Linked DNA regions of Homo sapiens. The protein of the gene in region 2 interacts with the protein of the main gene of each other region in a pairwise test. Each region holds a gene or a part of one and is shown on either strand. Other genes may lie near its edges.

What was found.
Region 1: the proteins of ZNF366 (region 2) and DCLK3 interact in a two-hybrid assay, tested with the Homo sapiens proteins (one study listed by IntAct).

What each region holds. Positions count from the first base shown.
Region 1 is NC_000003.12:36,729,683-36,745,209, forward strand, and holds part of DCLK3 (serine/threonine-protein kinase DCLK3), read right to left. Parts: intron 10,180-15,527; exon of another isoform or gene 10,114-10,179; intron 9,403-10,113; coding exon 7,526-9,402; intron 1-7,525.
Region 2 is NC_000005.10:72,500,108-72,515,718, forward strand, and holds the start of ZNF366 (zinc finger protein 366), read right to left. Parts: upstream 7,304-15,611; 5' UTR 7,144-7,303; intron 1-7,143. UniProt on the Homo sapiens protein: Has transcriptional repression activity. Acts as a corepressor of ESR1; the function seems to involve CTBP1 and histone deacetylases.

The DNA.
Region 1 (15,527 bases), on a different chromosome or scaffold from region 2:
GTGGCTCCCTTAAGGATTAAGACATGGATAAAGTTTATTTATCTTTGCCACCTTCTTACTTGATCCTTCATGGTTTCTCGTACTTTTTCCCTCCAAGGTCCATTTTCAACTGGCTGTGAAGAATGAAATGATCTTAGAAACCAATTCACATTAAAATGCCAATACCTAAAATCCGTTTATATTTCAACGACAGCAAAATATACCATAACACAGGCCAGGTGCAGTGGCTCAGGCCTGTAATTCCAGCACTTTGGGAGGCCAAGGCAGGTGGATCACTTGAGTCCAGGAGTTTGAAGTGAGCCTACACAACATGGCGAAACCTCATCTCTACAAAAAATACCAAAATATTAGCCACGTGTGGTGGTTTATACCTGTGGTCCCAGCTACTTGGGAGGCTAAGGTGGGGGGAGTCTGGAAGGCGGAGGTTGCAGTGAGCTGAGATCACACCACTGCACCCAGCCTGGGTGACAGAGTCAGACTGTCTCAAAATATATGTACATACACCATATATACACACACACACACACACACACACACACACACACAAACACATAAACATACCATAATACAAAAGTATGACTGAAAAAAAAAATCAGTGAGGACAAAGTCTTCCCTGGGACTTGTCACATGGCATGCTCACAAGATAAGATGCTTTTGGTGTCTGTTTATTGCATCTGCTTATTTCTACTTAATTAAAATCTCATGTTCATTCAACAAATATTTACACACTTACCATCTGCCAGGCAGTGTTTGAAATATTAAGAATAAAGTAGTGAAGGAAACAGACAAAGTTCTTTTTCTTATGAAGCCTCCTTTCTATTAATGAACAATATTCAAATAAATATGTAATCTCAGGCAGTGATAAGCGTTATGAAAAAGTAAAAGTGGGATAAGGGCTGCGTTGTCTAGTACAGTATCCACTAAGTACACATGGCTATTGGTTTTTACATGAAACTTAAAATGCAGTTCCTTAGACAGGAGGAACTGCCCATGTGGCTAGAGACTACCACATTGGGCTATGCAGATACAGGAAATCTGTATCTCCATCATCACAGAAAATTCTACTGGCAATGCTGGCACAGTGGCAGGAGTTCTTTTTTTTTTAATAAGGTGGTTAAGGAAGGACTCACTGAGGAAGCAACATCTGAAAGAAGGCAAGGGTGAGCCATATTAAGATGTGAGGAGCAAGTTTTCAGGTAGAAGAAACAGCAAATGTGAAGGCCGAGGGGCATGCATGGTTTGATGTAGCAAGCAGGGGCAGGAGCAGGGCGAGTGAGGAGCTGAATGGCTGGAGAGTGGCTTTGAGAGGAAGATGGAGTCCACATCATATAAGACCTTCCAGGCCATGGAAATGACCTTGGCTTTTATTCTGAATGTGAATGCGAAGGGAAGCTAATGGCAGCTCTGAGCAAAGAAGTCACTGTAATGCACTGTCTTTTTAACCCAGTGTCTGGTCAGAGGTGGCCAGCCCAGCTGATGAAGGAATGGACTTTGGACTGTAGGTGTTTCCTGAACTTGATAGCCTCATATTTCACAGTACACTTTACTTCACCACCTAGTCATCCAATCAGATGATCATCTCAAATTCAACATGCCGGAAACTGATTTCACCTCGACCCTGCTTCTCTCCCACAGTTCCCCAACCCAGAGAATGGCTCCATCATCACATAAAGATGCTGTCATATCTCCCAACTTAAAAAAAAGACAACCCTTATTTTCTCTGCATCCCTCTTTAGCTACTGTCCATTCTATGATCTCCTTCGTGCGTGCACACACACACACACACACACACACACACACCCTTGAAAGAGGTGTCTATACACACTGTCTACAGTATTCCACCTTCCATTCTATCCTAACTCAGTCAGTCTCTTATCCCCATAACTACACAGAAACCACCCTCCTCCATTAGAAAGATGGGGCCACGACTGATCCAGCTTCAGGTCATAAACATCTGTTACCCTTGAGTCTTCTCTTTCCTCATCCACAGCATTCAATCCACTCACAAGTCTTGTCTTTACCCTTAGGATGACCACTTCTCCCCATCTTTACTGCGGTCCCCAAGACCAAGCCACCATCATCTCTTGCTGGGACCATGGCTGCGGACTCCTCACTCCTTCTTTTCTCCCTCCCCTCACATAAACCCTAACATGTGGGACTTCCACAAGATGAACCAGAACCTGAGGGTTTCTGTTGCAATTAGACAACTAGACCTGAGACCTCAGAAACTTGAGATTTACTAAGCTGTTTCCTTAGCTTAAGAGCATTTTCCGAATGCCCTTAAAGACTTTTAAGAAAGTTAATCTTAGACCCTCAAATGGCTCACAAGAATATACTCTTTTAGACAGGTGATAACATACATGAACACAGGGATTAAGCGGACTAAAGGAAGGTGCTGTTATGTTCATTTACCAAATGACCTGAACTTCAGGCCTCCTTGATGAAATGAGGTCACAGTTTTAGAAGATATCCACCAAGTTGATAAATAGGAACCATGCTTTAAAATTGTTTTTGTTGCTGAAAATTTACTACAGACAGTAACTTATTAGACGCCTATCCTTTTAGGTGGATGTTTCGAAAGTAACTTACAGAGGAAAGAAAACCTCAGTCCTCAAGATGATCCAGTATCTATAATTTTGAAGACTTTGAGAAATTTCCTGTAACCTCTGCCTATGTGGCCAAACCCTGGAAATACATAAGTTCACTGAGTGTACAGATACTATTATTGTCCTGGAAATTGCTGAAATGGATACTGAGAGCCTGTCTTACCAATGTAAACCTACAGTCATAACTGCAATGATTTCTGACAAGAATATACCCCGCAGTTCTCCAGAGGAGTTCAATCTCTTACATAACAGCATTCTCACTGACTCGATCAAAATTGGCCAATGACCTAAAGACTTGTGTCACTGTACTTTTTCTTTGGTAATTTCATGTTATTGCTGAAATTCACATTTATTTATTTTATTAAGTAGAGCTTAAGTATACTTCATAGTTGTTACTAGTTTTTTAAATTAATGTGATTGGGGTATAAATGCATTCATGAATACTTGGACTATTAATGAGAAGACATGAATACCTCTGTCTTGGAAGCTAAGGGAAAGGAGATTGAAAATGAAGCTGTTAGAAGAGAAATCTTGCTGATCAAGGAGAATTATGCATTGCAGAACCAGTGACTACCATAGCAATAATCAGTGACTCCTTCTTGTATAGCAAAATAGAAGAGAAAAAGAACTTACAGAATTCAGACCAAGAAAGTGATTGAACAGGTTCATGGTAAAGGGAGAATGAGCAGGAAGTGTGGCCGGCTACTCTTTATCCTTCTGGATTTTCCCTGCCACCCTTAGGGACACCAGTCACTGCCCTGTCCTAGTCATATTCACCAGTAAATATACAGACAAGCCCGTTTCTTCCTAGAACCAGCAGGAGGCCAGAAAGAGGGTACAACCTTTGTCCTTGACCAAGCTGAGACCTGTTCCCACCATCACCACCACCATCTCTCCTGGATTTCAGGGATCTCTGCTCCCAGCACTCCAGGGCTGTAACAGCTAGTCTGGGGGCAGTAGCAGAATTGGAGACATGAACATCCTATATGCTAGTGGAGGTGTAGCAGCATGCCCACCCTGCTCATTCCTTTCCACTCTGTTTCCAGTGCAGGAACACATCCTTCTCTTCCCCTTATTCTGGAAGAAATGTTCTCAAATGACCGTGCTCAATGTTCATGTCTGACACCTCTTCAGTCCCTTCCCCCATCCTGCTCACCCAGCTTTCTTTGCTGGATATAATCTCTCAGCCATCAGCTATAAATAACCTGGCCTTTGCCCTTCCACCCTCTGTGAGCTGGTCTAATCATCATCATCACTACTCCAGCTCCTGTTTGCTTCCCCACTTCCTTCCCCAGAGCCCAGCCAACACCACCCAGCATATTCCAACTCCTCCAAGGAGCACACACTGGCAGAAGCAGCAATTAACACTGGTATTTCTGCAAGCTGGAAATTCTTATAATTAAAACTTCTTTTGTAAGATCTCAGGAGTCTAAATAACCCTAAGGGAAGAAGAGCACCATCATCTTATCAGGAAATGTAATCAGTAGAAATAGATAAACTCAGGAATATAGGCCTAAAATTTTACTCTAGGGCACAATTATCAGATATAAATATTTCTGTTGATTAAAACATGAAAGCTTACTATATTCATTAGGAGCTTTTAGCACATACAGATAGTCTCTAAAAGCAGCAACACTTACAATCAGCCATGTAATCAAAAGTTAGTTCTGACATAATCACTTCCCGAAGCTTAACAAAGACAGGTCTTAATGGACACAGCAGCCATCCATTAAAGGAAGAAACAATTAGTTTGACAATATAAAGCTTATCACAAGTGTAAAACATTAAATTAAAGGCAACTGAAGAACACCAACTTATGGACAGCAGTCACCAATGTGATATTTATGAATATTTTAAATCTTAGAAGGCCAAACAAATTTGCAATGTAATTATATCAGCAACTTTAGAGATAACACCTTGCTAAACCCAGACAATGAGTCAACTGTCAATCCAACATTATCTCTACCTCTGTCTGAAAAACCAAAAAGCGCTGACATCAGATAGCATTTAGACTTCTGACATAACAATATGTTAAACTTTACTCACCCAGAAAAAGGATAAACATGTTTTATAAATGTGCCAGACCTGTCCACTTTGATAAATGCAAGCTGACAAATTATCCACAGGAAAACAAATATATTAACCTATTCCACATAAGATGGCTCAAATATGCAGCTTTCTACAGTTTCTGAAGAAGCCATACCACCACAAAAAAAGTTATTTTATTTGAAATATATATATATGGACTATATACATATATATGTATGTATACACATATACACATATATATATGGACTTTCTTCAAAATCACAAAAAAGAAAGGGTCTACATATCAATTGGGATCAATTCCAATAAACAAAAGCTCATGCATTTAGGCTGAAAAAATTATAACCACTCTGTAGTTTGCCTTCTCTCCCTCTCTTTCTCTCTCTGTCTCTCTCTCTCTCTCACACACACACAATTCCATTGCCCCAGAGCACTAAAACATGCATGTACTGACATTTAAACCATGAAGAACTACCCAGAGGCAAGTAGCTTGTCCATATTAAACATATTCCTTGCTGTTTTCCTACTTCCTCAAACCACCCTCCATGTGATCTATAACAGTGCTGACTTTCTCCATCTCAAAAATAACTGATAAATCCCTTCACACAAATGAGAGCTTCTATTGCCCAAGAGATGGGTGGACTCAACCAACTGGTTCCAGGATCTTGTTAGAAAATGCAAACTAAGCTAACTGTCTCCAAAAGAAAATCATCTCATTCCACATAGCTGAGAACTTGTATAACTGTTTTAATGCTATAGTAGGCACATGACTGAAATGTTCAGCTCGTGGGACCTCCTCAGGCCTCGAAAGGGATCTCTCCTGCTTAGACAATTCGGTGAAAGAAGCAGAGAGTTGTTAAAGAACACTGCTCTGTTGCAATTGCAAAGTGTCCATAATAAAGAGTGTACAGTACATTGCACATGGAAGACATCTGGGCTCAGACCCAAAAGACGGGAAGAATCAAAAAGCGAGTAGAGAAAGGAAAAAGACATCCAGCTAATGCAAAAAATGAAATTGTTCAAAGAGAGTTATTTGATGGTAATTCAGACCCCTCATCCAACCAGTCAAACTGCTTCTGTAATTCTATGAGTTAGGACAAAAACACAAAAACAAGGTTGCTCGACTTAGTGGTCAATGTAGACCTCATTTCACTGGATAATTAGCTTGACTCACTCAGTGTTTCACCTGCTTGTGAGACCAGTTTACAGACAGGCAAATGCAACTGGGATGGTGTCCCCAGGCTGAGTTTACAGCCATGGAAATTAAAGAAAACAGTGTAAATCCCTTCCCCCACCTTCCCAGCTTCCTGCCAAAATATGGCCCATCAAAATCACTGTGCTCATTCACTATTGCTTTGTCTGCAATGATGTGACTTTGAATGCTTACTCATGATACTCACCTTGATATCAGGGTTGTTTTTAATGTAATAATAGTGATAGTCTCTGCCACTGATGGAGTTCTTGCTGTTTCCCAGGCAGCATGGTATGGCCTTTAGGCATTCATACAACTCACATGTATTAAATGTCGACCAAGTGACAGAACTGTTCTAGGTTTGGGAGCACAATCTGAATGAAACAAAGTCCATGCTGTCATGGAACTTTCTCTCCAATAAGAGGAGGGAGACAGAAAGGCAAATATAGACTCTATCAAGTGGTGATTGGGGCGATAAAGAAGAAAGTGGGTGAACGTGCCAGAGGGTGACAGTGTCATCCTGACAAAGACCTCCTGGCACACACTTGTACTCAAACACACTAAGTTTACCGACTCATTGTCATAAGGGAGAACACGTACTGTTGGAATCTGGGAATCAAAGTAAGAGAGTGTTTAAAGGACTCATGATAATATGTGGGCTGTGTTAGATGATTTTGGGGGAGGATTCATGAAAGCAGGGTTTTGCTCTGGGCTGGATAGTGTCAGCACGTGGGGGTAATTCTATAATCAGGTATCTTAATAATTCTTACATGAAGGTAGGAAGGATGAAGCAACGCAGTCAGTCACTCACAGCAGCCACAAAGGGGACATGTGACCTTATATGTGGTTTGGACAATATTCTTATTTTTATCTGCATTTGGACATCAGTATAAAGGGGTTTTGCTTTTGTCTTGATCCATTATGGTCAGAGTGGCCTTATCTGATGTTGTGATCTGTGAAATTGCTTATGCTCAACAGAAGAATGGCATAGCTGAGATAAGGGTGTCAGGCCAGCTCCCAGCTGTCAAGGGTTGCTTTTCTTTTTCCCATACTCAAACTGCAGGCATCCTTCCAAAACAGGCACCATTACCATCTCTCTTTTACAAAATGATGAAACTAAGGTCCAGCAAGATAAAGGACTTATCTAAGAGCAAGCAACTAAGAAAGCCAGGATTCAAACCCAAGTTATCTGACCACAGAGCCAGCCTCATCGGCACTCCTTACACAGACCCTTACAGTGCTGCACCTTTTCACCTTTTGAGCTGCTTAGCAAAGCATTATCTTCAAAAAGACCAAAGTGGCATCTCAGTGGGAGGGTGGATGATGCACACAAAGCCTCGAGGGGAAGCTGCCATCAGTAGGCATCCCAGTACCTAAGTGCCAAGAAATTAAGTCCACGTAGTCACTATCAAGACAAAAGCATTTTTCTCCCAGAGATGAAGAGACATTTTCCATTTTATTTAAATTGGAAGGTTTCTTTTTCTGTAAGTTAATCAAAACTAATTTATCTCAGCAACTTATGACCTATAACCATAGTTTTAAATACTGGAACAAGTATGTTATAATAACATAAAAGTAAAATTCTAGTGTGTAAAGGTGACAGAGTATAAAACAATTAATATCAATTTTATCCCATATTCTAAAAACACCCTCTCCCATATCATCAAAAGTCAAGGCTTACCAAAAGGTTTTCCGGCTTGAGGTCCCGGTGGACAATGCTCTTGTCGTGCATGTGGACGAGGGCTTTGCATAAGTCCATGATCATGAGGGCAGCATCGGGCTCCGGGAACTTCACACTTTCTATGATGGCGTCAAAAAGGTCTCCTCCCTGCACGTACTCCAGGATCAGGTAGATTTCCATGTCTGTTTCGTAGACTTCATGCAATTTCACGATGTTGGGGTGAGAGAGGCTCTGGATGATCAAGATCTCACTGTCCACCATGTCCTCCTTGCCCTTGAGTCTGGACTTGTCAATGATCTTCATCGCATAGGCCTGCCTGGTCTCGCGGTGTCTGCACTCCTTCACGACAGCAAAGTTCCCATCCCCAATGACCCGGCCAGTCTCATAATGCTTTTCCACATTGGCGGCAATGATGCCCATGGGCCGTGGCTTCCGACCGCTGGGCCGCTCTGGCTTGTTCTCTTCTGGCCTCGTCTTGGGCTCCTTTTCTAGCTTTGCAGGTTGGTCATCTCTGAGAGTCATCCTTCTGCCTCCAGACATACATGGCTTTTTCTCCTTCTCTGCCTCCTTCTCTTCTCCTCGGGTCCTGCGGAGCTTCTCAAAGCCCGCCTGGTGCTCTCTCAGGAGCCAGCCACCATGTTTGCTCCTGCTCATGGGCCTGGTGTCCTTCTTCACCTCCCTCAGCCCCTCCTCTGTGACAGGAAGAACTTCCACAAGGTCCTTCTTGGCCTTGGCTGCTCCCTGAGCATGGCTTTCTTGATCCTCTGGGCCTCTGTCCTCTTTCTTGTCCATGCTCTTGCTGGGTCTCCTCAGCTCTTGAGTGGGATTCCTGGGGCTGCTCCTGTGGCTGTCACCCTTCCACCCTTCCTCCCCACTTGCAGGATTTGCCTCGGGAGACCTCCTGCAGCTTCTGGTCCTCACCAGCTTCTCCACATCATACATTGGGCCCTTCCCCATATCCAGCTCACTGGTCCCCAGAGAAAGCCTCTCACGCTCCAGGCTCTGCTGGAGCTCCCTCTCTCTCTTGCACTTCTCGCATCTGATAATTTCACCCGAGGTCTTTTCAATCTCCACCCCAAGATGCTTCTCTCCCCTTGCGTGCCTCTCTTCCAGAGTGGCTTCCCTGGGGGGCTTGCTACTGGGTTCTGGCTCCCATTTCCCCCTCCCCCACTTCTTCTGGGTCCTCGCTCTGTCATCTAGTGAAAGCTCCTCGGGGATCTTCCCCTGGTGCCTCATGGCTGCCTTGCATCCTGCAACTTCGCTGCAGCTCTTGGGGGTCTCGGTCTCCCCACAGCGGTGGTCTCCTTTCAGAGCCTTGCTAAACAGCCTGCTCCTCAGCCTTGGAGAAGGGGCACGGCTGTGCTGGGCCAGTGTCAGGGCCCGGGCTTTGTTGGGGTACAGTTCTTCTACAGCCACCTGAATGCTCTTCAGTGTCAGTGGTTCTTTGCCCATAGCTATGAAAGCATCCCCTTCCCTGAAGAAATCAGAGACGCTCCTGATTTCCCTGCCCTTGAGGTTAAACAGTTTCCTCACACGGTCATTCTTCCATCTGGGAGAGCCCAAGGCTTCTGAGATGTCAGCTAAGAGCTGCTCGAACGTCTGCACTGATCGCCTGTTGAGGAGCAGAGTGATCTTTCGGGGGCGCTGCCCACCCAGCTTCACTACGGTCACGACCCTGGGCTTCAGAGGGCTGTTCTCAGGATGTGCTGAGTGAAGGCCATTCCGAGGGCAGAACAAGGGCACGACGGGGCCACGCGGCCCCAGGAATGGTTTCTCCAGATTCCCTCGGCTGGCAGGCAGCCAGGAGCCTTGCAGCTTCCGCTCTGTGATTCTCGAGCTTAAATATTTTAGAGAATGGTCACATAGGCCTTGCTGTCCTGCAACAAGAAAAGGACAACAGAGTATTAGTTAAGATGGGTTCAGAGAGCCCTCAGCCTTCACCAAAACTTTACTAAAGATGACTGACTCTAGCATTACAGTTTATAAGTGTGGTTCCTGAGAGTCTGTTAGAAATGACAGAGCCTTTATACTTAGGTCTAATTCCCAGTCTCCTCTACACCAGGAGTGCAGAACAGAGTAAGCATTGGGCTTGCAGTGATTCCTGTAGGCCTCACAGGGGCCCCCAGGATGGGCCACACCTCAGGAGCTGATACAGTTTGGCTCTGTGTCCCCACCCAAATCTCATCTTGAATTGTACTCCCATAATTCCCATGTATTGTGGGAGAAACCTAGTGGGAGATAATTGAATCATGGGGGCAGTTTCCCCCATACTGTTCCATGGTAGTGAATAAATCTCATAAGATCTGATGGTTACATCAGGGGTTTCCGCTTTTGCATCTTCCTCATTCTCTCTTTGCCTGCTGCCATCCATGTAAGATGGGACTTGCCCTTCCTTGCCTTCCGCCATGATTGTGAGGCTTCCCCAGCCACGTGGAACTAACTGTAAGTCCAAGAAAACCTTTCTCTGCAAATTGCCCAGTCTCAGGTATGTCTCTATAAGCAGCATGAAAAGGGACTAATACAGGAGCCCTCTCACGGTGAGGCCTGACTCTGTAAACACAACTCCAGCTACCCCAAAGTGAACTGACCTTCAAGGATCTACAGCTGAGATAAAAAGGGCCAGTTTTGCTGCCCATGAAACACCAACAAGAGTCAGGAACATTCTAGAACTTTGAAGGGCCAGGTTTGCTGCCCATGAAACACCAACAAGAGGCAGGAACATTCCAGAATTTTGAAAAACCCAATCTTACCCATCTCTTTGCCAAGAACATTTTTTTTCAGCTTGACTTTGAACTCACTCAAGGTGGAGCAGTATGCGAAGAGGTTATGGTCACAGGATTTGAGACAGATCTGGATTTAAATCCTGGCATGGCCATGGACTGCTTGTGTGAACCTGGACAAATTATTTGCATTTCTTTTTTTTTTTTTTTTTTTTTCATTTATAAAGTAAGAATGCTACACCTCCCTCCCAGGGTTTTTGTGAAGAATAAATGATCAAATTACAACTTACCTAAGAGAGTGCCTGACACATAGTAAGGACATAATAGTTGCTAGTTATTAACACTGTCCTTGTGATCTTAATATCTATTTTATATTATAATTTCACTGTATTAGTAGTATAATCTATCAATAAGGTAGAAGTCTACTGTGCACAGCTTCTTCTGGCATCACAAGAACTCATGGACCCACATGATGTGGTAGGTATTTCTTAAAGCTCTGACTGAGATTCACTTGCATTAGAGTTAGTATAGGAAAATTGAAGAAGGTTTCAATCTAGGTGTAAAAACTTCCTTGTCCAGATGGTTTTCCCTCTTCTTATTTAAAAAATGTAAAGAAACCAAGGTTCAGAGCTTAAATAATGAGAATGTACATGAATAAAACAAGACTTTTGTATTTCCTAATTGACTATACCCAGCCAGAGTAAAACAGGTGAGGCAGGAGTGGTTTAATTTCCTCAATTTCTATCCAGGTCAGGAAGAGAAATTGGAAAAGAACAGAAAGTATAACTCAGTTAAGCCACAATGGTAGGATGACAATTATTAAAGTTACCCTGCAGGACCCATATGTCATATCCTACATGGAAGAATCTGCTGTTTATGCTTCCTTTAAAAAGAAATTTAAAATAATCATTTATACGTGTATTTGAATCAACTGTAGCAGAAACTCCAGTTGTGCCAGGATGAGATTTTGGCCCAGCAAATCTACACAGAATGTTTTTTGTTTTTTAATTATAATGTACAATCTGTTCTGAGATGATTTCCATCTAGACGCAGGTGTCAGATGAGATGACAAGGTAGTGGCTGATACTGATCTTCCCACACACCACAAATTTATGAGCTTAACAATCACATTTACAGTTAAACTACATATGGACATCTGTTATCCCTTTCTTCTCACAGCCTCTTTAATTAATCTGCCTCCATTTTTGTCTGAGATAGCTGATGTTGAGAGAAAGAAAGAGAGCTACAGAAGGAATACTAGTTTGTATTTCCTGCATTGGGGAACTGAGGAAGGGTGTCAGGAAGGTGACTGTCAAACGCATGTGCACAAAAGGGCTGGTGTTCTTGTTGGTTTTTCTTATGTGCTTCACACACAGTAGGATCCTTGATACATACTGTCAGACTAAGTAAATGAAGTCCTGATTATTTTCTCAGAAGACCCTGTATAGGGACAGAGAAAGAGATTTTAGCCTATATCCTGGACTGAGGCTTTTCCAAGCAGATGTGGGAAAAGGATAGGCAGGCCCAAAGGATCAACTGCTGGCTGTGGTCACAAGAGGGCAGACCTACCAGGAAAACCTAGAGGCATAAAGAGGATGTAATGAAATCCAATGGAAGTACCAGGAGAATGAGCAACCAAGAGTGCTAGGAAGACAAGATTTGAGTTGGGTTTTCAACACCTAATGAGGTAGAGGCCACCCAGTACATAGCAAAGGAACCATGACATAGGGCTGGACCAGTTGTCCACACGGCCGCTGAGGTCAGCACAGATGAAGGTAAGACTCAATGTGGAGAGGAAGACACTGGTAACATGGAGAAATGAATGGTCAGCCACTATATGACAGTGGCAAAGCAAGGGTGTATATTGTATCATGGGATGATATAAGCCTCAGCTAAGGAAAGGTGTTATAGGAGGGAAGAAAAATAATAGCTCTGAAGCAGACCTGGGGAGCTAAATTCTGAGCTCTACCTTCAAAATCTATAGTCCCTGGAAAGGAAGAATTATCCATTACAGGGAAGAAATAGGAGAGGGATCCTCAGGGGAGAACCAATAGGACAAAGGAACATTCAGTGAATACCTTAAGGATGTTTGAACATTTAGCATAGAAGGAGGTTCAGGAAAGCCCCTGAACCCTCCTAAAAGGTCCAAGATGGGATGTCAGGGAGGCATAAAGCAGTGTTCATGAAACAGGACTGACAGTAATGGGCTTTATGTATTGAGTGTTGACATAGAGTGACAAAGAGGCCCAAATTACAATAGGACCAGTGGCCTCAAGTTCCCAAACATTGGAACTGTAGAATCTGAGTGTGGTAATGGATGACTTGGCACAATGGTACCCAGAGCTGGGTAGGGAGAAGAGGGGATGTGTTCTCTGGGATTTCTGTGCTCAGCCAATTTCAGCAGACCCTACCTCAAAACTTGCCCTGATCCCTAGTGGTTAGGAGAACAATCTGGGAACATCCCATCCCTGAACAAAGAATAAGCTCCATAAGAACAGCCTCCATCCCAGGGCATGGCGTAAAAGGATGTAAAGAGAGAACAGCTCAGCCTCCATCACACCAACATCAGACATGCTCATTCCACTGCCTGGGCATTCACAAGCTTATTCAAAAGCTCCTTGGTCTGCAGCAAAAGTGACAATTCAGTCTCCACCTCCTCAGCATAACTGGGTCCTACTGAAATTGCACTTCTTCTAGCTATGACTGCTTCAAGCTACTGGGAAGCACCAGGAAAATGCAACCTTCGGATGCACTGATTTTTATCTTCTCTTCCACAAGACCTCTTTCCTCTTTTAAAGTAGTCTAGAGCAAAATTTTCTTCTTTACAGGTAAGAGGAAAAAAATAAGAAGACTATGAATGCCTGGTCCATGGGCAGGGAGAGCAAACAGCAGAAAGAGCACAGCATATCCTTTAGGCCTGGGGCTCAGTCTCCGGGAACGTGCTCATGCCCCAGGACAACTGCACACAGAGTACTTTCAGTCTCCCACTAAGCACCACTGTCCAGAACCTAACCCAATCAACCTTACTAGAAAGCCACAGGCCTGCCCGAGTCCACTCAGCTCCAGCAACACCTTTACTTACAAAATCAGTAAAATGGAACCATATGAAATTGCTGGTAGTTCTACCAATTTTGAACCATAAAAAAACAAATTTCATGTGGCTCACCCTCATACCGGTTGAGTATCCCAAAACCAAAAATACAAAATCTAAAATGCTCCAAAGCCTGCAAACTTTTTGAGCACTGACATTCCTACCAAAGGAAATGATCATTGGAGCATTTCAGACTTCAGATTTTCAGAGCTGGGATGCTCAACTGGTAAGTATAATGCAAATATCCCAAAATCCAAAAAAAAAAAAAAAAACTCCTTGAAATAAAAAAATAAAACAAAATAAAATAAAATAAAATAATAAAAAACCACTTTTGGTCCCAAGCATTTTGGATAAGGGAGACTCACTCAACCTGTATAATCTAGGATAATAATCCATATTCTGTCCCTATATCAACAGTAAATTGTTTATGAAGCCATAGATAGTAAAAATTAAACATGCTAATTCTGTCTTCAGCCACCAAGGCAACCATGTCCCAGGAAGTAACACAGGGAAAATATGTTCTTATTAACATCTTATTTTTTTCTTATTAACACCTTATTTTTCTGTTAACTTGCTACAGCAAAATAAATTGACCTGGACTTGACAAAACTGCTGCTTCTACTTCATTACACCAAAATACAAATGTTTACAGGGTCTCTCCTCAATGCCAATCTAACCCCACATATACAGAAGAGCAAGCACTACTTTTGATAAGCCATCCATCTGCTCAATAACCTACAGTAGCTCCTTATTAGCCTCCTTGAGTTCCAAACCCAAATTCCTCTGCTTGACACATAAGGCCCTTCACAATTCCAACCCACTCCACCTCCACTCCCCCACCAATCCAAGCCTCACCATCTTGTAAAGCCTAAGACCCATCTCTACTCCCAAACCTTCTCTGTCCTCGTAAGTTCGCAGTGATAGCTCCCTCCCCTGAAGACCTGCTCATTCATTAAAGCAAAATTTAGCACAAATGCCTGAGACCAATACCTAGCACAGAATGTGGAACATATGGTTTTGCCTGCTGCACATCTCAGCTAATTGTTACTTCATCTTAGTAGGTGTAAACATTCTCCCTCTCAACTAAACTGTAAGCTCTCCAAAAGCAGAGACCAGGGTTTATGCAAACCCCCCAACTCTGCCCCAGTACAGAGAGCAAGCACACAAGATTTGGAGAACAAATTCCCAACCCTAACATCAAACACAAATATCTAGCTTCAGTCTTCCAGCTCTCACTGTAAATAACTGAGCATTGCTAATTGCAGCTCCAGCAAACATCACACAAAAGACCTCCTGAATACATTAGATAAGTGAGGTGAAAAGAAAATATAATCACAAACATCCATCTGCGACAGGAAATTTGACAAAGTAGCATTTCTGAAGAACAACTCATAGAGGTAGGGGACAGCAGTACGTTGCTTCAGGTTGAGAAAGCTTTGTTTTAGCGCAAAGAACACTGACCATGGGTCAGAGGACTTCTGCCAAGCTGTTATTAGCTGTGTGACCATGGGAACATTAATTAATCCCTATGAACCTCAGTTTCACCACCTGCCAAATGGCATTAATGTCTTACTTATTGCTGAGGATGTCCAGTGCATTGCTCTGCCTAGAGTGAGCACTCAACTTGTGCTTATTTTTCACATGTTCATAAAGAAAATAAGTCCTGTAACCTTGAGTTTCCTCCAAGTACATGTACATCTCAAGGCCAAAGAGAATATGATGCTAAATGTGACCCAGCAGGATGCATTTGTCATTCACACAGTGATTGAAATAAAAAACCAGTAGGGACGGGATCATAAAAGAAACACTCCAGCAAACCTAAGCAAACAGGTCTGCTGGGGAGATAAACGGAATTTCTGCTCATCGACCCTAGGATGCTCTGATTCTGGGGTGAGCCAATAAACTCAGTAACTGCACCGGCATGGCATGCCGTTATTGCCTCTAATAGGTTTGATGCTCAGAAAGTGGGTCTCTTATCTGCTGCCACAATTCAGATAAAGTAACATAACCTGATTCCACGATGATCAGCTCTCCACCTTATTAGGCTGGAAAGGCTACCAGAGTGACTGTAAGTCACATTAACCAAGTTTCCTGTCTAATTTACTTATAATTACTTTTCTCTGTTATAAGATTAGCTGCTAATCAAGTTTAGCATCAAGAAAAAAATAAAAGATTTCTCTTTTATATTGTC
Region 2 (15,611 bases):
GATGCTGGAGAAGCGGGTCCTCCCTTTCTCCCTGAGGAAGACACAGGGCAGACAGCAAGATTTCTCATCCTTATTCTCAAGCATTCAAAGGAAGAAAGCGGCAGAGTACGTTTTCTTCCTGGAAGAACTCTGCGGTGCCCTAATGTGTGCACTATGGTTTTAAATGTTTTTTTCAAGCTACTGAAAAAAGCTAAACTATTTTTTAGGGTAATCTGCCTGAAATACTCATCACTACCCTCCCTGGGGGCTTCCTTACCCTGAGCCAGCAGCTTGAATAATAAGCAGAGCCTTGGTCCCCTCTTCAGCTTTGTTAGATCTGGGGAAAGGCCTAGAAATCTGCCCCAGGTAACTCTGATGATTGGTGCTCAGAAAGCACCTGAAAATAATACCCTCGCCCTTTCTGAGAGTGCTAGGATCCCATGATATGGAGTTAACTTCATGGGAGAGATCACAGAAATCATGCCTACTGTTGCTCAGAGCTGAATAGATTGGAGACTTGTCCAGTAATGCCACTATTTAATAGGGAGGTATGTTGTCTTGGACAAGGTCAAAGTTAACAAATGGCTTTGTAACTCCTTGGAATAGAGTCCTACATTCCCTGATCAATCTGTGTGCAACAGTCCAAAACCATAAGGCAGTGCTGCTCAGACTTGAATGTGCAACTGGTCACTTGGAGATCTTGTTAAAATGCTGATTCTGATTCAGTTGATCTGCAGTGGAGCTGGGATTTATTCTGCATTTCTAACAAGCTCCTAGGTGGTGCCATGGTGTTGGTCTTTGGACCCCATTTGAAGGCTACTACCTTAAAGGATACATATTTGTTTTAAAGAAATTATTAGCTACAGATGACACTTTTTCCTTATAAGGAAACTGAAAACAAGCAACATTAATTTACTGACCTTGAGCAAATCACGTACTTTCTGTAGTTTATCTGTTAAACAAGGTGGTTGCCTTTCTTCAGCTCTAAGATGAGGAGAATAAGGCACGTACTTGAGAATGGGGTAAGTGAAATGAAGTATCTAAAGTTCTGAGGAGGCCCCAAACCTAGTAATGACTCCTCCATAATTGTTGGCGCTGGTGGTGGCAGTGCCGTTGTTGGTAAATCACTCTCCCATTTAGTATCAGTGGCCATCAAAGAATGAGGTCAGAGTGGGGCCATAATCTATCAAAGGAATATAGGAGAATTGCCCAGTATTCTCTTTGTGTGCCCTGGTACTTGACACTAAAGAGAGATTCTATCAATGTTAATAGAGAGTGCCTTTTCAGTTTCTACTCCAATTAACAGACACCTAGAACCCCAATGTTGTTAAATGTAAAAAGCATCATCCAAAATCCCAACTTTTGTTACTAGGTGTTTAGATTTGCCACTTTAAATTTGCCAAATAAGTATAAAACTGACTCGATCCAGTGGTTTTGGCCTTCTTCAATTGGCTTGAATTAAAGAAAGGAAAGGGTATTGTGCTCAACAAGGGTATCACATTTCTCTCCCTGAATTTACCCCATGGTGTTTTGTCAATTCAGCCCAAGTGGCATTCCTTTAGCTTGGATTCACAGCCTTTGCCTATAACAAACCAGAGAGCTGAACACTTCCTACAAGGCTGGATCCTGGCTCACAGCTCTTTTAGTCAAGGAAAAACAAATGACCGTTCTCTGTCTCGCCAAAAACAATTTGCAAACCCATCATCTGCCCAGAAAATAAATGGAAAATAAAATGCAACAACAGTCTTTTCTGTGTATCTATCTGATAAATGTTAATTTCCCATGAACAAATGGGTGGGGGTGCTTGCCAAGACGACATTTTAATACACATGTAGCAGCCCCATGCACACAACAGCAGAACAAGCCCATATAGTTCCAGTCAATTCAGGTGAGGGATAAATCCATCAAGCTGGCAGTTTGGCATTGTCTAGACTCCAGAAAAGTTTGACTAACTTTTTTTTTTCAAATTAATGGCTTCATTTGGCATTGTATAAAGATAGCATCTTTCATTCTACAGCCCACTGATTCATTAACTCATCTATTTAACAAATATTTATTGTGCATCTATGACAGGCTCTGTGCTATTGTAGGCCCTGGGCAGACAGCAGTGGACAAAACAAAGTCCCTGTCCTCATGCTGCTTCCTTTCTTGTGAACTTATGTATTACACATAACGCTGGATGAAGACATGTTCTTATTCTTTTATGTAAATACCATTGTTTTATGTAAATGTATTTGGTTTTTGAATAGTCTAAAAGAACAGCCTTCATTAGGCTAGTTGTTTCTGAGGGTGCACATTAAAATTATTTGCTGTCTCTATGTTCCTGTCAGAGGGAGATCTGTGTCCATTGCTGCTTTATTTCATTATCCATATAAACATATAAGAAAAAAATGAGTGATTTAGGTAAAAACTCAATCAGGAAATTTAGAACAACTTTTTCTATAAGGTTTATATTTTCCTTATAATTGAAGCATACAATATGACCTGTGAATGCTGATTTTTCAAACACCATTATCAATCTTTTTGCCTTTCTACATCACCATTAAATTAGGGACAAGGATCTAACTTGTAAAATAGGCTCATCACAGCACACGTTGTAAAAAAATAAGAAACAAAACCTTATGAGATAGAATCTACTAATATTTTTTAAAGGGAATAGAAAAAGCTTAGTATCTGTGTTTTTCTTGATTAACAAATACATGCTCACTCTAAGATGCAAATAATATAGAAATGGATAAATCAAAAAGTGCTATTCCACCGGGCGCAGTAGCTCATGCCTGTAATCCCAGCATTTTGGGAGGCCAAGGCAGGTGGATCACTTGAGGTCAGGAGTTCGAGACCAGTGTGACCAACATGGTGAATCCCCATCTCTACTAAAAATACAAAAAATTAGCCAGGCGTGGTGGCGGGCAGCTGTGATCGCAGCTACTCGGGAGGCTGAGACAGGAGAATCACTTGAACCTGGGAGGCGGAGGTTGCAGTGAGCCAAGATTGTGCCACTGTACTCTAGCCTGGGTGACAGAGCCTGACTCTGTCTCAAAAAAAAAGTGCTATTTATATTGATTTATAATGTTTACAGATCTAAGTAATTGATCTTGTGATTTACATATGGTTCTAGAACACTGATCATTATCATCAGATTGCTCAACCGGCTAGGACATTCCTTATTCCATAATACTAATAGCTTCTAAAATAACATTTGATATACTCAGAACTATCTTCTAGAGAGAACATCCAGTGCTGAATAGGAATTCCATTTAAAAGCATGGCTCTTAAAACGAGCATTTACAGTTAATGTTAATGCCATCCAGAAGAAGACGGAGCAAGACACTGACCATCTGTTTTGGAGAATCACAGCATGTCAGCAAAAGGGTCTCACAGATCATCCCATGAAGTGGACAGGGCAGGAGGAGACTATAAACAAGCCCGTAGGTGAATTCTAATACACACACACACACACACACACACACGCACACCTCGAAAATTACTTATTTATCCCATTTTGTCATTTCACAGATGAGAAAATTGAGATCCAAGCAAGTAAAGCAACCTGTCAAGTCATGCATATAGGAAATGCAGAGATTGGATGAGAACAGCAGTGTTCTGACTCCCAATCTGGTCTTTTTCTACTCCACCAAGCCACATGAGAGGGCACCTTTTGCACGTTAGTGCAGAACAACTCAGCTTCGATTTGTCCCTAAGGTTAAGTGTCCAAACATGTCTCTGTTGTTTCACAAGCTCTCAGTCTAACAAAAGGACCTGAATGGCTTTGGTTATTGGTGGTAGATTTTTTGTTATTCTTGCTGTTGTGTGTTTTGCTTTTGGAAAGTGGAGAGAAATTTAACTAAGACCTAAGTAAAAGTATCATTATTACTTGACAAACTAACGGTCATACAGGTTTTAAAGTTTAGAGTGAAAGAAAAATAGCAGTTGGATCAATCAGGCACCACACACACACATGCACACACGCACGCACACACGCACGCACACACACATGCGCGCGCACACACGCGTGCATGCACACACACACGCACACCCATGGTGATATATAGTGTTCTGTTTCTCTGTGTGAAGGTGAGTGGCTCACTGTTACAATGTTTGAGGAGAGAGAACCCCAAGTGTGCTCAGCCCTGGGCAGGAGGAGAATGTGTCACTTTAAGTCCTTTCCTCTTTAGCTGAGTCATGGTACAACCACGATGGTCTCCAAAAAAAGTGTCTCCAGCCCTCCACAACCAGGGAAAAGGTCACCAATAACACAGAGCTCAAGCAGTTGGGGAAGTGGGTGAAAGGGAGAATAAAATGTCCACAATATAACTGAACTCTCTTTGCACGTTCATCTAAGTTGAAAACTTTTATCCCGAGACAAACTTTCCCCTGCATTGAGCTGTGTTGAATACAGCTGCATTCAGTGAAGCTAAATCTGCCATTTCTGCCATTCGTGAAGATGAATATCAATACATTAAACTCTACACTCTTTTATTTTATAAGAATTTAGAATTTAGAATATCTTCACTCAGTGTGTGCCCAACTCTAAAGCTGTGAGGAATAATATCTGCTCTGATAGATCCTTGGTATAGTATTAAGCAAGAATAATGACACAAATTATAGGAGACTCATTCTGTTCTCTGTATTAACAAAATACAGTACTCTTCAGTGTTAATATATGACCCTTAAAAAATATATAACTGACACTGATTGACTCCTACTACTTGCCAAACATTATGTTAAGTGTTTTATGCCGATAGTTGTATTTAATTCTCACAACTCCATTATGTTGACGCAATTTTACATTTGGGGACACTGAGATTTAGAGCAGTTAAGTACCTGCCCCGAGGCCCATAAACAGTAGGCAACGAAGCTGAAATTCAAACCAAAAGTAGTACAACAACAGAGACTGTGCTCTACTCACTCTAATTTGACTCACATCCCAGCACACAGATCTACAGGACACACATCCTAACATAATTTAAAATGTGTATAAGAAATTGTAATTTAGTTATGTGTACAGTTTTGGCAGAAATTAACGAATAAAATACTGTGTGTCTCAAATTCTGGATCACTTCAAACTGGAATTCCCCCAATGATATCACAAAAGAGCCTCTGATGACCCCCAAATAATCACACACTGGAAGTTTCCACAAATGCCAACTCACTCTTTGGCGGTGAGTGAGTAAAGATAGATTGAGTGGTAGTGACTTCGATGAAACTAGTCGATGGCTTTTATTCTTCGGGTAGCTAAAATTCATTTCCCCCAGTATCCAAGAAATATTTTCACAGCAATGACTTAACAACTTAAATGGAAATATTGAATACACTTTTTTCTTTAAAAGAAAACTGCATATCCTCAGCTTCTTAATCTCAAGCCATAGTCATGCTAGCAGTGGGGCTGTTTTCTGAGCCACTGGCCTACCCACCTTGTGCTTTCCTTGTCTTTAATTTAATTGCCTTCCTTGTCTTTAACAAATGACTCTGCTGTCATTTGTTTCCTATTGTGTTGCATCTGATGCTTTTACTCAGTAAACAAAACTAGAATGTGTTCTGTGATGTTGTTTTAGTTGAGCACAAAATTCAATACATTATCAAGAGAAATGAAACTGAAAGGAGCAAGTCAAGATCGCAGACCTGCGTTTTCTTCTGGGGCCACAGTTGCTGATAAATGATGCAATAATGCCCTCGACAATCTATTCCAGCTACCTCTTGATCTGAAGATCTATGGAAATGGAGTAGTTAGGGGAGGTGGTAGGGTAGCAGTAAAACACTTTCAATTGTTATTAGAATAATTTTGCATCCGCAAGCTGGCAAACGCTATTCACGTCTCTTTACATTGCTCGTTTTATGATGCTCCTAAAGAAAATCCTTGAAAAAAGGAGAAGAAAAAAGAGGTCTGACTAATGGAACAAAAGCTACATCACAGTCTAGTTCTGTCATGTTTTCTCATCCTTAGTAAGATGATGGTTCAATTTTGAATAAAGATTAATTACTTGAATGTGGTTAAAGCATAGTCTAGCCAAATTAATTTTTAAAATGAGAGTCCAGCTATTTTTATCTTATTCTTCACATCCCAGGTGATTTCAATCAGTAAATTTCATAGCAGTGAATATTTTTAAAAAGTATGCTTGGCCATTGGCTTTTACCCATTCGGCATCTCTCTGAATTAAAGTATTAATATTGGGAAACATAACGAGTCTCTCGGAGTGACCTTGCTGACCTATTTTTGACAACATGATTTCGGCTCCCTCATGGCTTGCGATGATAGGTGCTGGTAACATTATCCTTTATGACTAATCTAATTGAAGCAAGTTAGACTTTTAAAAACTAGTTGTGTATGTTAGCTTGACTAGCTTGCTACGCCCTATTTGGTGCTTGGAAAACCAGGCACTGGGTGAATGCTTTTCAATTGCGTCTGTAACTTAGTTTTTCCCTCCTACTGACATAAATGATCCATCTTAATCCTCCCATTCTAGCTGCATATTGTTTTCCAAAACTAAAGCTATATGCCCCAAAACCTTTGCCTTCTATCATGTGGCAGATGACATCTTCCACTGACAGTGAATAATAAATTTACACTCAACCCGCATGGGGAACCTGAACACATAAGCTCCCCACATGCAGAACTATTTCCAAGTGACATTCCCTTCTCTCTTTCCCTTCTACTTCAGTGATGCAGAATAACCATCATATAACAATTAACAATCCTCCTTTAGGGGGATGCTGAATGGAAAGAAAAGAACAGGAGAAGGGCACCTCAATCCAGGTAACGTATTAACAAAAACCCCAGAGCAAACCACAGTCCTTAACAGACACCCTGATAAGGCTCCCAGGACACAGTACTGAGGAAGAGCAAATTCTCCAGTGGGACACATCTCACACGCCAGTGGCTCCTGGTTCTCCCAGCCACATGATCTGTGCCAAAATTCAGATTTAACGCAGTGTCCTCTTTAGTCCCAATGTAATTCTATTTCTAGTTTTGCCAGCCTTAGTTCTGCAAAGCATCAGTATTCTCTTACCAAAAAAAAGTATTAGCTGAAATTCTGGGCCATCTATCACTTATACCCTTTGGTTAAGGACTACTCCCAGTAAGGTATTTTCTGTTGAAGATGCCCACAGCAGTATCCACCCAGGAACCTTGAAAAGGAAGCAGAAATGATTGCATGGGTAACTTACCAGCTCCTGAGGTCTGAATGGCTGCAGCAGCCCCACTCCTTTACCTGATCCCTGCTCTCTCTGTCTCTCTCCCTCTCTCTCTCCCTCTTTCTCTTGTGTACAGATTGCAGGGAACTTAAAGAACTCGCAGGGACAGTGTTTCGAATGACTTAAGAAAGAGAACAGGAACAATACTTCGTTCTCTTTTTCTCAGATGAGTACCTTCGGGAAGAAGGAAGGAAGGGAGGGGAGAGGGAGGAAGTCAACAACCCTTTGCTTTCCTGAAAAAAAATAAGGAAACAGAAGATAGACATCTCATTTTCTCTTAAACAAAATGTTGGAAGGGGCAAAAAAAAAAAATCTTTGAAAAAAGGAATTCCTCAAATATGTTCTCTGCCCTGGGAGCTTTAAAGAGATGAAACGCCTTAGTGGCCTGTCCTGTCCAAACAAACGGTGTTCCAGACAGGCAGGCTCTCCTGAGCCTGCAGCCTCTGGTATCTGGTTTGCAGAACTGACACAGCCGAAAGGGAACAAATCATGTCATGTCGACTTAGAGCAAGGGAGAGCTTGGCCTGTTGTGCTAACCAAGGTAAACCTGCAGCCTGTAAGACAGTGTCGGGGCTGGGCAGCCAGGACTCCTGGCTTTTCTTAGGCCCTTTGAAACACCAGCATTGCTGCAATTCCTCGCTGACTCTAGATCCTTAGAGTTTTTCCAGGATCAAATAGCAGATTTATGCCCACCGAACTTTATACAGTGGACCCAATCCAGCTTCCATCACTGATGGATGAAAAAGGAAAAGAAGCAACTAACCACAACTGCTGCCGGCCATGGTTATCTCAGATCTGTTGTTTATATTATTCTATCCTCTACATTCCTAAGGCGTCTTGGATTTAATCACCTCTGGAAAACTGGAAGGAGATTTCTAATTTGTTTTCAAAATACTGTGAAGCAGCATAGGGTTTAGATAAATCAGCCATGGTGTTCGAAAAAAGATAGGGGAGGCAGGAGCAGTTAAAATGGAGGGAGTAACCTTTATCAAGGTAGAAGACTTGGGGCTTCAGCAGGCAGGCATGAGCTTGCTTAGGCTAGTTGCACTTAGGAATAAGCTTGGTTTTAACTTCTCTGATTTGTGTTATGTCTCTTGTGTCCCTTATTCATCTGGTTAGGACCATTTTCACTGTGAACAGGAACCAGCAGTTATGTAGACCTTTGTGGCAGCAAAAGAAAAACCAGCCTTACACTACTTCCTCATTTCACCCAACTGTGAAAAAAATGGGGTGGACAGATACACCTGATTGCAAAGAGTCATGAAAGTGAGTTCAGGGGAAGAATGATTCTGATTCAGTGACCCTGTAAGATTTTGATTGAGTCCTTATTGGCCTATAGGATTATGTTTTTATTCTGACAGATATTTTTCTATCATCTATCTGTCTATCTATCATCTATCTATCTATCTATCTATCTATCATCTATCTATCTAATCTATCCATATATCTATCTATCTCCCTGTCTATCTAGTTATCTGAATATGTGTGCATGTATCAGAGAGAGACATGAAGATTTTGTTACTCGGTAGGTGTGCACAAGCCAGAGCAGAGTCCCATTCCTTGCATCCGCCACAGCACCAACACTGGCACAACCCATGGCACTGAGTTCTGGCCTGGGTGACCCAGCCTCACCAACAGTGGGGAACACGGATGACCAGAGACAGTCTCTTTGGTTCGCTTAGAGCCACACGCCAACACGTTCCTGTCTCCTGATCCCGGCTCTCGGGCTCTTTGCCCTCTGCTGGCCTTCCTCTACATCCTGCCTTTGTAGAAATGGGAAGGGAAATGAAAATGAAAATCTGAGAAAGCCAGGGAAGGGCATGAGGGAATGGAGCAGGAAGGCCTAGGAATGGAGTCTTTTAAAGGGGGAGAAACACTGGGGCAAACCTTTGAGTAACCGGAGGTGAAACAAGCAGGCAGCTGAAATTCACAATAAAAAAGCAGACGTCCTTGGGAGTGAGGTGGGGTGAGGAGAAGCAATAGGGAGGGGGCAAGGTGTGCGGGGCATCAGCAGCAGAGGAAAGGAGGGACCCAAGGAACAAGACGCTCATGGTACCAACTCCTCACAGGCAGGAAACCGCCTCTGATCACTTGAAGAATCCATTGCAGCTGCACACAGGCCTTCCCATATTTTTACTCCTCTTTGCACCCTCAAGGCAAGGCCAGGGCTGAGCCCCAGGAGTCCAGGCAGAATCCAAAGGATTTCCCTTTTAAGTCTGCAGAATGTGGGGACTGTCACGTTGAGGCTGTGTTGTTGTCTCCAGGCCAGCTGACCCGCCCAGACAGCCTGGATGGGGACATGTGCCATTTCAGGCTGCACGGCTTTGACTGAATGGGGCAGCATCCAGTCGGGATCTGACATCATCCCCGCAGCCAGCCAGGGGACTCTCAAGGCTGCCTTGTGCCAAGCTGCTCCATGCTCACACCGCGTTGCAACCCTGCCTGTGAAATTCACAGAAAAGGCTTTTCCCTCTTTCCTTGTGCTGCCAGTCACCTGAACAGTCACCCTCTAAAACTTGTGAAACCACCCACTGGGTGTCAGGAGCAGAAATTCCTAACCCTCCCATTAGGTTTGGCAGGACAGATTTCTGATCAGTCCACTGGAGCTCTAACTCTGTCCTGGCCTATCTGGATCCTGACTAAAAGTGAAGGATCCAACTGAGACGCATGAGCAGGAATGGCATATGGCCTTGGCTCTCACCCCTCAGGAAAGCCCCATGTTGCACAGCGTATCATAGAGATCACTTGAGTAGAGAGAGGAGCTGCCCACCCCTGGGACGAGATAGGAGGACAGGAGAGAAACCTAGGTGAGGACAGTGCTGTGACCCTAACCCTCAGAACCAGCACCACAGAAATAGGTGCTCTACTCAAAATGGCGTCCTGCCTCTGAAGCGTCCTAATTTGTATGGCACCAGCTTCCAATGACACAGACTCTGGGGTTATCTGTTGACTCCCAGACTAACTTGACTTCAGGTCATGGAGGTAGCAGCGTAGGAGAAAATGGAGAAAGGTTTGGAATAGAACATATTCTTCAGAAAAGTACACAAAACGTAAGTGTACCGGTCAGGGAACTTCACAAAAGGAACATATCTGAGTAGCCAGCCCTCAGATTAAGAAAGAGGACAGAGGCCCCCCAAGCCCCTCCTGTCACTACCTCCTCTCAGGTGCCCTGACTTCCAGCACCTGACATGGATGCACATTACCTGGTTTTGAATTTACATGAAAATGGCATTGGCTTGCACTTCATTTGGTTTCTTTGCCTCGATAGTATATTCATGGGATTCGTCCCTATTGTTGAGTGTAGCTGTGGCTCATTCGCTCTCATTGCTGGATAGGGTTTCATTCTGTGAATATACCACCATTTAGATGTCTGTTCTACTTAACACAGACATTGGATTGTTTCTAGTTTGGAGCCATTACAAATGGGCTGCCAGGAATATTCTTGTCCCTGCCAGATGTCTTTTTAGAAGCCTGATGCAGGACTCATCTCTCTCCAGGAAGATTGGCCACTCCAGTGACTCAGTCTTTCTGTTTGGTATCCTTTGGCACTCACTTCCTCTCAAAGGGGATGCATAGCATAGATTTAAAAAAAGAAATCAAATGACTTTGATTTGAGGACACGGCCATGCCTTTGGAGACACTGGCAGAGTTCCTGAGGCGCTTGGGCACTGGTTAGGAGCCACTGTTCTCACTTCCTGCAGCAACCTGGAGATGCTAGTTCCTGCTGCTCTGAGTCATGCTCCAGCGGCTCCCCATCTCCACTACAGATTCGATGGAAAATGTGTCTCTCCTCCCCGCTCTGGGCTTCTCACGAACATGCTGAGTTTTGTTATATGAAAGTGCAGGGGGGATGGCGCAGTCCCCGGCCTGAAACTGCTTTGAAACTTCCTTAGTTTCTTTGATTTATTGTCTTCAACTTGCCAAACCCCCAAAGCCTCCAAGTCCCAACTCTCAAAAATGTGAGAATGTTCATTTCTTTTTTCCTTTTAAATTTTTTTTTAGCATGAAAAGATAATATGAAGGATTCATTTAGACAAGTTATTGAAGAAAGTCTATTTTATGCATCCAGTTTTTTCATATGACAAGTGGGGATAAGAACACATCTATTTTGTACAGTATTTGGAGTAAATAAGAATAGGTTAACATCTTTCACATACTTACCATGTGCCAGACACTTCTAAACACTTCACACATCAAACCAACTTAGTCATCACAACAGTCCTATGAAGTAGGTGCTATTATCGTCCACCATCCCCCTGCCCTTTTTACAGATGAAGGAACTGAGTAATGGAGACATCATACTACCTCCTTGATACCACACAAATAGTAGATTTCAAACCCAGGAAATTCTGGCTCGGAGCCCTAATTTTTAACCACAAAGCTAACATACCTTGCTCTCTAAACTAGCACTGCATGTCGCATAGTAAAAACTAATGACTGCTCCCTAAAATTGGAGAACCACAGGTTTATAATAGACACAAAGGTTCATTGGGCAACCCTTTAATAAGCATGTCTTATGGACCAGGAAGCCCCATGCTAGGTGTGGTTAACGTGCTTCTGGATTTTATTGCCTCGTAGAGGAGAGATACGTTAAATAAATCAAACAAACCATACCTGAATACCTAAACAGTTACCACGGCAGTCAGTGCTCTGAAGATTAAGTCTGGGAGTTACAAGAGCATATAGCAGGGGACCAAATCTGGGCAAGAAGGTCAGGAGGCTCTTCCTGAAAATGGCATGTCAGCTGAGACCTCAAGAATGAGCATGAGTCAGGGAAGATGGTGAGGAGCAGCTCATGCAAGGGCCAGTCAGACAGGTCTGGGTTCAGATTGTGACCTTGATCCTGAGAAGGGTGGGAAATCATTAAAGATTTTACTAAGGGTATAGAATGATCAGGTTTGCATTTCAGAAAGACTATTTTTGGTCACTGTGCAAAGAATGAAGGAGGACAAGAGTGGGAGCAGATGAGCAGCTGTAAAAATCTAGGCTAAGTTCAATCCTGCCAATAGGGCCTATCAAGAGACATAGGTGGGCGTGTTGTAACCACCCAGTGGGTTCACTTTGCCTGCTGCCTAGACAGAGCCCATTTATCAAGACAGGGGAATTGCAGTGGAGAAAGAGTAATTCACACAGAGCTGGCTGTGAGGGAGACTGGAGATTTTTTATTACTCAAATCAGTCTTGCCAAGCATTTGGGGATTGGAGTTTTAAAAGATAATTTGGCGGGTAGGGGCTTGGGAAGTGGGGAGTGCTGATTGGTCAGGTTGGAGATGGAATCACAGGGGGTGGAAGTCAGGTTTTCTTGCTGTCTTCTGTTCCTGGGTGGGATGGCAGAACTGGTTGAGCCAGATTACCAGTCTAGGTGGTGTCAGCTGATCCACCCAGTGCAGGGTCTGCAAACTATCTCAAACACTGATCTTAGGTTGTACAACAGTGATGTTATCCCCAGAAGCAATTTGGGGAGGCTCAGTCTCTTGGAGCCAGAGGCTACATGACCCATAAACTGTAATTTCTAATCTTATAGCTAATTTGTTAGTCCTGCAAAGGTAGACTGGTCCCCAGGCAAGAAGGGGGTCTTTTCCAGAAAGGGCTATTTTCAATTTTGTTTCAGAGTCAAACCATGAACTGAATTCCTTCCCAAAGTTAGTTCAGCCTATGCCCAGGAATGAACAAGGACAGCTTAAAGGTTAGAAGCAAGACGGAGTCAATTAGGTCTGATTTCTTTCACTGTCGTAATTTCCTCAGTTATAATTTTTGCAAAGGCGGTTTCAATGTCAGTGCCTGGAGAGGTCATAGGACAACCAAGTTTGAGAGCTGTGCTCAGATGTTGTATGACAAGAGTCTATTGGAGAATTAATATAGGCAATGCCTGGCCTAAGAATAACTGGCTTATGAAAGCTTCCTACTTTCAAACAGCAACATCTACCATTGCCCTGCCATCCCCAATTTCCAGAGCCTCCAAAGCTGAGTGCCTACCCTCCTTTATTCCACCCCAGCCTCCTGTCTGTTTGCCTTGCCTTGCTGTCATTGTCCCATGTCTAAATTTCTCAATACTCACCCAACAGAGAGCTCCTTTTCCTTTAACACACACCCAGTGCTGTTACCAAAAAGCTAGTGGCATCCTCCAAGCTAGCCCAGGAGTGGTAAGTGGGAGGGATGGAGTAGAACTCAGTGTTTGAACTACTAGCATTGGGGAAAATGTACCCCAGGCGTTCCATGTAGAACCCAGGCTGAAATTTCTAAGAAAACTGTTACACTTTGTAGATTGCTGGTGTTATAACAGAGTTCCAGCACATATGGTTTTAAGAACTAGTCTGGGGATATAGGAAAGAAACTCTCAGTTTTTCCTGCTATGCTTTCACAACACAGAACACTTCTGACACCAGATGTATGAGAGTTTTCCCCACACACCTAGGAATCAACCAATTCTTCAGTAGACACCAGTAGGGTGTCCTAATTCAATTCAGTGTCCACACTATCTACCTAGAGACAGTATCAGATCCCACAAGTTGAGGATTCAGTCCTATGATACTTTCCTCCACTTCAGATGCCAATCAAAAGCCCCAGGTTGTTTCACCTGTACTTCTGACTAATCAGCTATAAATCAGTATGCCCATGACCCCCTCCTCAGGTTCAATTAATTTGCTAGAGTAGCTCACAGAACTCAGGTTACTTACATTTACTAGTTTATTATTAAGGATATTACAAAGGATACCAATGAACACCAGATGAAGAGTTGGATAGGGCAAAATATGGAAGAAGGAGGGCGAAACTTCCATGTCCTCTCTGGGCATGCCATCCAGAAGCTCTCAAACCCAGTCCTTTTGGGTTTTTATGAAAGTTTCATTATATTGGCATGATTGGGTAAGTCATTGGCCATTGATATCAATTTAACCTTCAGCCCCTCTCCCCTTCCTGGAGGTAGGGGGGTGAGGCTGAGAGTCCCAATTCTGTAATTACAACTTGGTCTTTCCTGTGACCAGCCCCCATTCTGAAGCTACCTTGGGCTGCCGGCCACCAGTCAACTCATTAGCATACCAAAAGACACATCATTTTGAAGATTCCAAGGATTTTAGGAGTTGTATGCCAGGAAATGAGGACCAAGGCCAAATATATATTTCACCATATCACAACTGGCTTGCGGACTTAACCACCAAGGAACATGCAGTCTGAGCTCCAAATATCTGGTATGAGCAAACAAACATTTTTAAGTTGGGGAATGGCTGTAGTCATACTACAAGTAAAACAAGTCCTCCTTGTTTACTCTTTTTTTTTTTTTTTTTTTTTTGAGACAGAGTCTCGCTCTGTTGCCCAGGCTGGAGTGCAATGGCACAATCTCAGCTCACTGCAACCTCTGCCTCCCAGGTTCAAGTGATCCTCCTGCCTCAGCCACCACTAGTAGCTGGGATTACAGGCACGTGCCACCATGCACAGCTAATTTTTGTGTTTTTAGTAGAGACAGGGTTTCATCATGTTGGCCAGGCTGGTCTCGAACTCCTGACCTCAGATAATCTGCCTGCCTCAGCCTCCCAAAGTGCTGGGATTACAGGCATGACCTTGTTTATTCTCTCTTGGATTGCTTGCTTTGGGGGTAAATTAGCAGCCATGTCATGAGGATACCCAGGTAACCCATGGAGAGATCCACATGGAGAGAAACGGAGGGCTCCTACTAACAGCCTTTTGAGTGCACTGTCAACTGTGGGTTTATTATTAGGCTAATCATTCTCCAGTATTCATTTCCGTAATTTAGTAAAGCTCACCTTTTCACAGTCTCCTCCAGAGAGGTTGTAAAGCCTTTTCCTCTGCTTGTAGGCTCTCTTCAAGCATTCTAAATGCTTATTTATGTGTCTGTGGCACACCAGGGACAGGAAATAACTTTATTTATTTTTATACATTAAATTAAATATGATTAGAGTTCCCCTCCTTGACAAAGTTGGCTAACAGTTCTATATCATTATTTTTAATGGATCCCACATGGATCCTTCCTTAGGTAGTCCCAGACCTAGGGCTCAGGCAGTTTCAGGAAGACAGCACCGAGCCTTTATCCACGCTGGGTCATTCATGGTCCTCTCAAGGGGGCTGGTTCCCCTGGTGACTCTACACACTCAGTGTCAAGTTCCACCACAAGAATGTCTGCCAAATCTATTTGACTATTGCCTCACGCCCAGATCGCCACAGTTGCCCCTGTCATCTCTACAGTCCTATGCAGGTGTAATGCAAGGTTGCTGCCACTCTAAGAAAACCCACAACGTGTCTCATTTCCCAATCTTCTGGGATTCAACTCACACCAGGGGTCAGGCTTCTTTCTTCAATTCCATTGCCATGTCTTCCAGTCTCATTAAATCTAGATCAGTATTTAGCTCTAAACTCAACTTTTTAAATCATCCAAGCAGGTAACACACATGTGTTAAATAAGTGTGCTATGTTTAATACAGAGGATTT